Regions from separate parts of the Homo sapiens genome. Here region 2 is linked to region 1. Evidence: fine-mapped expression QTL. Tissue or cell type: whole blood. Region 1 holds a variant in brackets; the other region holds the start of a gene. All regions are shown on one strand. Distances are between the middles of the regions.

What was found. PIP is the estimated chance that this variant, and not a neighbour inherited with it, causes the effect.
Region 2: ARVCF starts here. The variant in region 1 is fine-mapped to the expression of ARVCF in whole blood (TOPMed, PIP above 0.99). The same link has a PIP of 0.9 or more in NK cells and blood mononuclear cells.

Annotation. Positions count from the first base shown.
Region 1 is chr22:19,970,016-19,975,933 of GRCh38, forward strand. ARVCF (ARVCF delta catenin family member) reads right to left here. Exons shown (of 20, transcript NM_001670.3): 11 at 5,671-5,742; 12 at 4,097-4,224; 13 at 3,628-3,778; 14 at 3,104-3,302; 15 at 2,910-3,021; 16 at 2,722-2,812; 17 at 2,343-2,396; 18 at 1,871-1,956; 19 at 1,201-1,320; 20 at 1-728. The coding sequence ends at 1,213. Among named protein-coding and RNA genes, the nearest start is that of MIR4761, 9.2 kb to the left of the region's middle. The variant G/A (reference allele first, on the strand shown) is at 1,689.
Region 2 is chr22:20,014,987-20,020,438 of GRCh38, forward strand. ARVCF (ARVCF delta catenin family member) reads right to left here and starts at 1,837. Exons shown (of 20, transcript NM_001670.3): 1 at 1,603-1,837. It also overlaps a transcript of TANGO2 not described here. RefSeq lists a silencer at 1,729-2,128.

The DNA.
Region 1 (5,918 bases):
ACAGCAGGCACTGAAAGCAGTCCCCCAGCCACTGCCGAAGGTCAGTCCCGGAGGTGCTGCCCAGGCTCCAGGCAGATGCGGCAGCCCCGGCCCCAGCCAGCATGGGCTGGAGAAAGGCTCTCTACTGCACAGGGGCCTCACGTGACTGCAGGGCTCTGGGGAGGTGGGGCACCTGTAGCCTGACCCCCACCTTGCTGCTTCCAAAGCTTCCTTGCCCAGGGCTGGGCCTTGTGGGGCACCCCCCACACCGTGGTCTGCCTGCCTGCAGGGTGCCCAGGGAGACCCTCCGCCTTTAGAAGTCCAAGTTCTTTCCCAGCCCCCTCCCTGCCTAGCTGCCTGCCCCTGGCGCCAGACCTGGCCCGCACCACTGGGGCACTGTGTTCCCAGGGGCACCCTCCTATCCCACCAGCCCCAAAGCCCAGCCAGGCACCCTTCCCTGCCACCTCCCTGGGCCCTGCCCCAGCAGCCCAGTCGGCCTCCTCGGGCCTTCTGTCACTCGCTCACACACAGCACCATGTCAGTAAACAGCTAACTCAGGCCTAGGGAGTTAGGTAGGATGGGGGGAGTGGGGTGGGGGGGCAGGAGGGTGTCCCCAAAGTCAGGCTTGGCTGGGGCGAGGCGCTGCCAACCCCTGCCGCCAGGGGGCTCCAAGCTCCACGGCACGATCTGCTCAGGGTGGCCCTTCTTCCACGATCCAAGCCCTAAGAACAAGAGGCTGGGCCTGGGCCCTGCAGAGGGAAAGGGGATGGTGGACGCTGCAGCCACTGAGTGGCACAGGACCACGTGTAACCTCAGGGCAGGGCAGCCAACTCCACAGGCTACATGGATGGAGATGTGGATAGAAGCATCTGCCCTGGGTGGTGTGGGCTGACCCCAAGGGTCTTGGCACCAGGGCTGATCCTGACTTGCTGGTCCCCGAAGGGCGTTGGAGGGTATGGTGCCCATCCCTACTCTGGTCCCATTTCCTCAGGCCCCTGATCCCACAGTGCCTGGGACAGGGCTGTGGGCCCAGGGAGCACCCTCCCTCTCTGACCTCTGCCTGGTCTTTCCGGGAATGGGCCACTGGGCTGCTGGACTGGAGGCCAAAGTCCTGCGGGGAACGTGCGGGAAGAGCAGAGCGTGCAGGCAGCGGAGACTAACAAGAAGCCCTGGCCCAGAGGGCAGGAACAGGTGGACGAACAACCAGATGAGAGAACGTACCAGGCATGCAAGCTAGACCCAGGAATCAACGGGCTGAGGCTTAGCGTCCCCTACGGCGTCCACCAGCCTGACCGCGGGCCTGCTGGGCCCGGGGGGAGGGGCCTTCCTGCTGGGGTCGAGCTGCAGCGCACGGGTGGGCATTAGAGGCACAATAGAGCAGGTTAGTTAGAGCTCCTGGGGGGACAGGGCAGGGGCAGGGCCGAGGCTGGCGATGTAAGGGTTGGCCTGCCAGGACAGCACAGGTAGCACCAAGGGCGCAGGGAGCCGGAAACGTGTGGCTCACACGGGCCCAGGGCGGGCACGTGCACACACACAGGCCTGCACAGGAAGCCAGGGGATTGGCACACAGCAGGCAGCAGGTCCTGCCATCGCTGGTGGACCCTGGTGGGCTCTCACACGCACATGCACAGAAGGGTGCACACACACTAGCTCACAGGCTCTGGCCCATGCAGGGTGTGGCCGGGCAGTGTTGTCCCCAGTGGGTGGGA[G/A]CTGCAAACTTGTCAGTACCCACAGACTGACTGGCGTGAAGGGGCTGCTTCCTGGGCTTGGCCCCACAACCCAGCTGTACCCCAGGGCCCAGACCAGACCCAGCATGGCCTAGGCTGCTCTCCAGCAACCCCTAGACACGGGGCCTCACCGGGGACCTGCCCACAGCCACATGACCACTTACTTTCAAGGGTTCCTTCTCAGAGGCCTCTCCTGCAGAGCTGGCGCCCCGTGGCCTCCGCTCCCTCCGGTCCACCGTGGAGTATCCGTCTGTAGATGGGGTAAGGTGGGGCATGAGGGGCGCTCTGAGGGAGGCCCTGTAGGAGCAGATCTCCCTCTCAGCCCAGACACAGGGGACTCGTGGGACAGGGGCTTTGGGAGACAGCCCCCACCCACCCTGTCCTGGAGATCCAGGCTGGTGCCAGCTCTCACCAACACCCTGCCAACTCTCCAGACTCCCCTCCACTTGTGGGTCAGAGCCCCTGGCTGAGCACTAATCCCTCTCTAGCTGCCCTGTACCTCACCCTCTAAGCACCCCTAAACCAAATATCTCTCCTCCACCCAGCACCATCTACACCCCATAAAACCAGCAGGCCCACTTCAGGCCTTGGTCCCCTCCCGGCACAGAAAACCAACCACACTGCATCTGCACTCACCTGGGCCCAGCGCATCCATGGGGATCACATCCCGGCTGCCAGTTTTCTCGCCCTCTGCAAGGCAGGAGGAGGAGACGGGCTGCATGTGGCAGCCAGGGGGGATCGGGGCAGAGAAGCCCACACAGGGCTGGCCCAGGTAGCCCTAGAGGCTCTCTGTCACTAAGGTGCCCAACCTCTGCCAGCTGGCAGCCTCACCCCAGCTTGACAACAGCGCGGATGCTGTGGGAAGGGAGTAGCCAAGAGGCAGAGGGCAGGGAAAGTGGCCTATGGAAGCCGTCTCAGTGGGAGGCCTGACTCCTCCTTCACCTTCACCCAAGGGTCAGGCAACTGGGGCAGCTGGGGTCGCCACCCTCTAGGCTCCCTAAGCTCCACCACTCACCAAGGCTCTTGTCCACCAGTGGCAGCGTGCTGTCATCGAAGCCCCCAGGACTCAGTGCTCCCTTAGGCCCCTTGGCAGTAGCAGCAGCTGACTGAGACATAAAACACAGACACAGGGTGGGTGAAGCACATGGAGTGGGAATAAGGCAAAGTGAGCAGGGAATGGAAGGAAGGCCAGGGAAGCCGCACCTGGAAGCGCGCCTTGGTCCAACCATCTTTCTGCAAGGTACCACGCAGCTCCTTGTAGCTCCACACTGTCTGCAGCACGTGTGACGCCGCCTTCGCTTCGCGTACCGATTGGCTGTGGGGCCGGGGGCGGGGTCAGTGGTGGCCCCTCCCCCACCTCCGCGGCTCCCCAAGCCACCGACCCCGCCCCTCCACACCTGGAGGCCACGAGAGCCACCAACGCTGGCACCCCGCGTGCCTGCAGGAGCGAGCGCGCGTTATCCAGGCTGTCGGACACGATTTCGTGGATGGTGTTGAGCACCGCCACCACGGTGTCTTCCTCCAGGCAGGCCCCCGGTCGCGGCGGAGCCTGTGCATTGCGCACATTCCGCACAAGCTCAGCCATGGCGTAGCTCCCTGAGGGGCAGGACTAGGTGTCAGAACACACCTCTGCCCCACCTCTCCAGGAAGGAGCAGGGATCCCGCGAGGGCGAGGGGCACTGCCAGGAGAGCCCCTGGAGACCGCCTGTGTGCAGGCGGTCACAGGAGCCCCTGTGAGCAGGGCGCTGAGCTTCAGAGACAGGGCCGGGGGGACTGGAGCTACCTCCAGTTGGGACAGCGCCCAAGCGAGAGGGCCGGGGCCTGGACTCCCAAACCACTCATCCTCCAAGCCCCTCCGATGGGACCCCAAAGCTGCAGGCACAGTTCGGTGCCCAGGCGTGGGCTTTGCAGGCGTCCTCACCGATGAGGTCTTTGTTGCGCCGGTCCAGCGAGAGGTTGCGCAGAGCGATGGCGACGGCGCGCACCACCTTGTCGGTCTCAGACTGCAGCAGTTCCACAAGCACCGGCAGCCCGCGCTCTTTGCGCACTGTGGCGCGGATGTACGTGGCCCACTGCGGAGGCGGGGAGAGGGTTGCTCAGACATACATGCCAGGCACTCTCCCACCTCCAGACGCTGACCGCTCTCTCCAGCTGGACCTTCCTGCTCCCGTGCCCGACAAAGCCCTACCCCAAAAGCTCAACGGCACCTCCACCGAGGTTTTCCCACCGTCCAGGGTGCACGCATTGCCCGCAGCCCATACACCTCTTGGATCCTGGGGTGGTGGTGTGGCCCCTCCTTTCCCCGCCAGCCGAGGCAGGAGCTGCACCAGTGAGGTGCCTGGGATTCCCTCTCTCAGGACTTGCCCACCCTGCCCGACCTGGTCCCTCACCATCCAGTTGCCGGCACTGAGGTTCTGCAGAGCGCCGGCGGCAGCCTCCAGGGTGTTGAAGTTCCGGCTCTCCGTGAGGAGGGAGAGGTAGAGACGTACCACCTCGGGCTGGTACAGCAGCTCAAAGCCTAGGTGCAGGGCAACCGCCACCCACGGTCACCCAGAATCTGCTCTCATCCATCATACCCCTCCCGCTTCCCGCTTCAGAGCTCCCAGGGCGTGGGTGAGCTGGGGCCAGGGATGGGTGTGGATGAGTCACGTAATATTTACTATCAACATATAGTCACCCAAGGGGAAAAGCGTTCCCATTTCACAGAGGAACAAACTGAGGCTCAAATCAGTTGGACCTGCCTGGCAGCAGGAGCATCCAGGAGGCCTGGGGTGGGGAGGGAGGTGTCAACCAGGAACGCTCTCCTAGCAACAAGACCCGCATTTCCCGGTAGGTCCCTGAAGCTATGCATCCTGGCCACGCCCCTGGTAATAGGGCCCACCCTCCCTGGCAACAAGACCAGCATTGGCCAGTAACTGAGAGTTGTATAACCAAGGCCACACCCCTAGCAAGAGGACCTGCTTTCACCAGTAACTGAAGCTGTGCAGAGAGCTACGCCCCCTAGCAACAGGGCCCACCCTCCCCCACTGACAATAGAGCCCACCCTCTGTAAGTCAACTGATGCAGTGCAACCAGGGCAGCTGCCCTAGCAACAGGAGGCACTCTTCCTGGCAACCACTCCAAGTTCCCGGGCAACTGAGGCGCCGTCCTGCTGCTCTGCCCAGTGCTCCAGAAATGAGGGGTCAAAACAGCCTTCCAAGCTTGCCTGTCTCCAAACTGGGGCTTCAGCCTGGCTTGGGTACTACCTCGATCTCCCCTGTACCCACCCAGTGACATTTCATCACACCCTCGCCAGTCCTCATGCCCCATGCTCCCTCTACTCCTGCCCTGCTGGGCTTTCTGCTCCAACACACTCCAAGCACACTCCCCGCTGGGGTATCTGCATCAGCCCTGCTCTGCCTGTAATACTCCCCCACAGCCCTCCTGCGGCTGGAGCCCTCCACCCTGGTGACATGCAGGCTCTTCCAACTGGCTAGGCCCCACCAGGACAGACCTCTCTCTCAAGCCAGATCCCAGCATACAGCCCAATAGGCACTGCCCTGTCCCTGCAGGTGTTCGTCTGGCCCAGCCTCTGAACCTGGATGTGAGCATGCCCGCCTGGCTCCCAGCCCCCTCAGATAACTCAGCTTTGTGGCTAACACAGGAGGCCCTGCCTCCACTGGAGGCGTCCCTCCAAACCTTCCCACCTCTTACGCACCGTGAGGCCGAGCAAGCCCTCGGCCTCTCTGTGCCTGTCTCCCCCAACCTTGCCTGACATGACCCATGGCACTTCCTCCCATTCTAAACCCTCAGCAGGTGTCCTGGTGCTGAATCACCCTCCAGGAAATCCTGCACCTAGGGGCCTGTTTCCCCATCTGTTCCCTGAGGCCCTCCAGGCCTGCTTGATGGCTCAAAGCTTCACTACCAGGGCAATCCTGAGCCCAGACATCCCCCAGTGGAGCTGGCTTCATCTCAGCCCACTCACCTTTGGCGGCCTCAGTTCGCTTGGGCAGGTCTAGCGTGTCAAAGTTCCGGTCCATCTCACCATCCTTCTTTCCTGGAAGGGAAAGGTGGTGGGAGGTGAGGCAGACCCCATATGGGGAATGGGTGTATCAGGAGAGTTGGGCACAGTTCTCTCCTACCCAGGCCCCAAAAGGCACCCCCATGTCCAGGCCTGGGCACCTGTGGGAGTGGAGCACCGTTGTCAGAGTTTGGGCAGACAGTTTAGCCTAG
Region 2 (5,452 bases), 45 kb after region 1:
ACCTCTGGAGGGAGTGCCAGAGCAAACATGGGAGCCAAGCAGCCCAGATGTGGTGGGTGGGGAGACTCAAATTTAGCAGGATTGAGGGTCAGAACTTGTTCTCCCAGGAGGAACCTTGGTCAGAAGGTCCTTGTGTTTATGCTGAAAAGCCTGACAGGGCAGCTCAGCCAAGAGCTGGGCAGGGGCTGGCTTGGCTGTGCTCAACTACCCTCTCAGCTGGGACTTGAGTCCCTTAGCGAATGTTCTGTGCCCAGTCCTCTGCTGGGCGCTGGTGGACCCCAGAATGGGGGTAGGGTGGGGACAGGGGACAGCTGGGAGCAGACATTGCGGATAGGATGGGGCAAGACTGGGGGAAATGCCTTCCCAGACACGCTGCGGCTCACACTGTCGCCTGATCTAAGGCCTGGATCACCTGCTTAGGAGCTGACCGGCCACTGGCATGGCACACCGGGCAAGAGAGCGCTGACTGCCCCCCTGCATTCAGCACCATCCCAGCTCCAATAGAGTGAGTACAAGATAGGTAACACCTGCCTTGTTTGGACCAGACCTCTAAACACCGCCCAGATCCCAGAGTAAAGGCAGATAAGGCAGTAGTTAAGAAGTAGGAAGAAGTAAAGGCAGCTACCCCAGAGAAGCTAAGGTCGGGAGAGGTGGAGGCTCCCACTGCACCCCCCTGGCCCATACCATAGGGGAGGTTTCCCCCACAGCAGCCTGGGTACTCACCTGAGGTTATTAGACAGCAGCATTAAGAGCCTACTCTAAAAAATACCCACGGGGCACCTTTCTTTTCCTTATTTCTAAATATGCCTGGATGTAGGGAAAGGGAGCTGAAGTCCTTTAGTTCCATTTTAAGTATGTTACATTACACATAGCTAAGAAACGGTGAAATATTGTAAGCAGCCAATATTTAATTATTTAAAAATTAAAATAGGCTGGAGCTCTCAGGCCACCTGCCCAGGGCGACTCCCCAGCAAACCGAGCAGTCTCCCTCAGAGTGGAGATGACATGTCTCCGCACCGGCACCGAGGGGGCGCAGGGCGGCGTGGGGAGGGGGACCCAGGCCGGGGGTCCGGGTGGCGCGCCCTCTCTCACCCCCGAGGCGGCAGGAGCAGCGCGGCGCGAGGACACCTCCGGGCCGTCGGTGCCCCTGAGCTTCCCGGCGGCGCGCTGCCCCAGGAAAGTTCCCGGCCTGCCGCCCCTCGGGCTGTTGGAAAGTTTCGGCGGCTGCAGGGCCCTGGCAGCTAGGCGCCAAGCGTCGCGCGGGGCGGGCACGGCTGCGGGGTCGGGCCGCGCTCGGCTGGAGTGCTCAGTGCAAGACGCCCGGACGGGTAGGGTAGGGCCCCAAGGCCACGCACAAAGAGACCCGCCCCCGCCGGCCCGGGGTCTCGGACGCCGCAGAGCGCGCGGACAAGACGCGGGTGGGGCGGAGATTGGCTCCGACGTCCGGCCCAGACCCTCGCCCGGATCTCGACTCCAGGGATAGGACCCTGTCCGGACCGCTGCCCGGAATGCGTCCCATATCTGCAGCCCCGCCCCCAGTCCCGGCTCCGACCCGAGGCCCCAGCCCCGGGTCCCACACCCCGCCCACTGGCTCAGGCTTACCTGGAGCGCAGCGTGGGCGGCCCCGCAGCGCGGCCTCGGACCCCAGAAGGGCTTCCCCGGGTCCGTTGGCGCGCGGGGAGCGGCGTTCCCAGGGCGCGGCGCGGTGCGGCGCGGCGCGGGTCGCAGTCCACGCGGCCGCAACTCGGACCGGTGCGGGGGCCGCCCCCTCCCTCCAGGCCCAGCGCGCAACCCGAGACCCCGGGCCAGCCCTCCCGCCCTCACGCGGCCCGTGCGCAAAGCGGACCGGGCCGGCGACGCGAATCTCCGCCCCGCCCCATCTGACAGCAAATTTTCCCATTGGTCGAGAGACCCGGCGCGGCACGGCAACCGGCGCCGATTGGGCGGATGCGCGGAGATGACGGCTTGCCATTGGGCCTCCGGGATGTCAGTCCCGGCGGATGACCGGCCCCCTCGCGGAGGGGCCGCGGCCCCGCACCTGCCCGAACCTCTGCGGCGGCGGTGGCAGGGTACGCGGGACCGCTCCCTCCCAGCCGACTTACGAGAACATCCCCCGACCATCCAGCCCCGAGCAGGGACTGGCAGAGCCGGCGCCCCTTCCCCGGACTCTGGCCGCGTAGCCTCCGCCACCACTCCCAGTTCACAGGTATCCTTCTTCAGCGCCTGCTACTCGCTGCGCGCTGCGCGCCGCTCCCTCCTGTCGACATCGAATTGTATTCTTCACGCAAGCCGCGAGAGAGAGTTCTGCTGCTATCCCCATTTTACAGTTGGGAAACAGCCTCAGAGAGGTTCTCACTTGCTTGAACACAGTCGTCTGACCCTGGGGCCTGGGGGCTCTCTCATCCTCACGCCCCTGGGTCCCCGCAGCGGGGAGACGATGGAGGTAGGAGCTGCAGTATTTCCGAGGGCAGGAAGGGACCCCCTCGGTAAACCAGGGGCTCACCTCCCCCACCAGGCCTGGATGTAGAGACCTCTTGGGCTTGTCCCACCCTGCAGGCCCCCCATGGGGCCGCCCTTTCTTACCTCCTCCTGGCATTCTCACAGCCCCACAGCTCTGCGTCTGGGGAGGCAGAGTTGTGCGTTTATGCCCGCACCCCGTACTACTGTCCCATTTTCTTCACCCTACCTGGAGTCAGGAAGAAACGGTGCTTCACTGCCTGTTGAGATTCACGTAGGTTACATTTCCTTGCCAGATTAAGAGCACCTGACATGAGTGGGACCATGACCCTCCGCCAGCTCTGCGTAACCTTGTGGTGTAGGGGGGAACCAGCAGGGATGCTGCCCAGTGGGCTTTTCTAGGGGGAGGTCCTGAGATGACTTCTTAGCCAGTGACCCTGGCTCACGCATGCTGTCATCCTTTCCTGCCCTGGATGCACCTGGAGATGACCAGTTCCTCGGCTCATTGCATTCTCCAAGGCCGCCTGGGGAACCAAACTGCCCACAACCATGCTTATGAGTGGTGGAGGGGTGTGACCAGACACTCTTGTCTTATCCACCCATATTGGGAGTCCAGTGTGTTCATCCAATCATTCCTTGGCCAGGACAAAGAAAATGAAATGGCCCAAGGCAAGAACTCACTGCTGGGACCACCGCTGGGTCCATCTGTGTGCTGGCAGCATGGTGAATCGATCCCAGCTGCCTTTCAGAGCCAGGCAGCTACTATCAATCGATTGGAGCTGGCACTTGACGTGCCAATTGGCCTCCTGGCATAGGGTTGTTGCTTGCTGCTCTGGGAGGGCAGAATGAAGTAGCTGTCCCTAGAATAGGGGCCCTCACAAACCAGGTAGCTGTCATCCTGTGGAGCAGCACCATGGTGACATTCTGGCTCAGGTGCTGTGTAGCTGAGGGGTCGTTTCCTCCATTTAGGAGTAGACGTAATGAGTCCAGCTGTCCCCAGCCATCTCTTCAAGGCCATTGGACCCTGGTTCTGCTGGAGCCCCTCTTCTCACAGTTACCTCATAGTCCTGCACCACCCCCTCCCCACACTTGCAAGAGGGACTGGACAGACCTCTGTTGAAAGAGTGCAAAAGACAGAACCATACACCAAAATCTGTGCAAGTGAGACTACCTCTCCTCTCATCACCACCCCTACCACCCATAGGGTTGCAGAGACCTGTCTGCCCTCGGCAGGCAGGATCATTAGCTGAGGTCAGAGGATGTCGGGGCAGCACCAATTCAAACAGGACTCAGGACCGCTGTCCAGCAGTCGGCCCATTAGGCTGCAGCCAGGGGTCAGAAACACAACAAGGGAGGCTGGGCGCAGTGGCTCATGCCTGTAATCCCAGCACTTTGGGAGGCCAAGGCAGGCAAATCACCAGAGGTCAGGAGTTCGAGACCAGCCTGGCCAACATAGCAAAACCCCATCTCTACTAAAAGAATACAAAAAAAAGTAGCGGGGCATGGTGGTAGACGCCCATAGTCCCAGCTACTTGGGAGGCTGAGGCAGGAGATCGCTTGAACCTGGGAGGCGGAGGTTGCAGTGAGCTGAAATTGCACCACCGCACGGCAGCCTAGGAGACAGAGCGAGACTCCATCTCAAAAAAAAGGAAAAAAGAAAAAGATAAGAAAAACACAGCAAGGGAGACCACAGGGACCAGTAGCCCAGTGTTCTCCCTCTCTCATCCTCTCACCTAGCTCCATGCGGACAGCTGTGAGGCCCCCGGAGAAAGCCACAGAGAGAAAATGCTTTCAGCTGGGTGTCAAGAACTTTTCAAGAGTGGCAGCTGTTGAAATCAAAAGAGTGGCCACAGAAGGTAGTGAGCTTCCTATCTGAGTTTGTGTGCAATTAGAGGTTGGATGCCAGTGAGCCTGTTGCAGCCCCAAGATCCCAGGGCTTAGGTGCCCATCCTAGACCCATTTCATCTGCCGTCACCTGCTTCCTGGCATCGCATGTCATCCAGACTGGAGTGTCAGTGGTGACAAAGAAGATCAGAGTGTCTGCTCTGGCTCTGTCTAGCTGGGAAAAGTATGGCTGGGGGTGGGGATGGCCCAAGGCCACAAGGTATGACAGAACAGGATGCAAACCACCATCTGACATGTTACTGCATCCCTCTTTGTGGGCAAAGGGAAACCTTGGTCAACTCATGTCCAGCTTTGAGGTGCATGGCCTGGTGCTTTGGGGAAGCCCATTCTCCAGGTGCTGCCATGAACCCCAGGGCACAGTCCATCACCCCCAAGCCCCAGATCCCACTTGTCCACCACCACCACCTCTTGGCCCTATAGATTGCATAGGTTTGGCTGCTCAGAGGGAAATCACTGGTACCAGCCCCACATGATCCCACTGCTGGATGGTGGGAGAGACAACCATGTCTGGCTGGGTCTGCGGCCCGCTGGCCATGAGTCCCTGGGCATCTGGAGTCCTTGTAAAAGGTTCTGTTGGGTTCCAGGGGAAACACAGATAAGATAGCAAAAGTGTGGAGCACAACGGGCCCGCATGTAGGTCCAGGTTAGACTCTTGCCGTTGCTGATTACCAGCCAGGCTCTTCCCATCCCTGAGCCCCAGTTTTCTGCAGGGCATCAGGGCACCTAGGTCTTCAACACAGGTTGAAGCTAATGTGGCCTCTCTTGCTTGCCACCTTTTTCAACTTCAACTGAATGACATAACTGCTCCAAGTCTCAGTGTTTACATCTATAAAGTGGGATGAAAGAACTGCTGACCCAGACATTGGGTTTAGAGTGCTTTACACATTATCATTATCCCTAATGTCTTTGTCATCCATGTCATAGTTTTTTGAATGCTCACTTTGAGGCAGGGCCTGAGCCTCTGGGCTTTGACTCTCCACCTTTCTGCCACATAGGCCCAGGCACAGCCCAGAGGCTACAGGAGCAGCGGTCCCAGCTAATGCCTCTGTCCTGTTGGGAGGGCCCCAGTCAGTGCCCACCTGCTCACCCT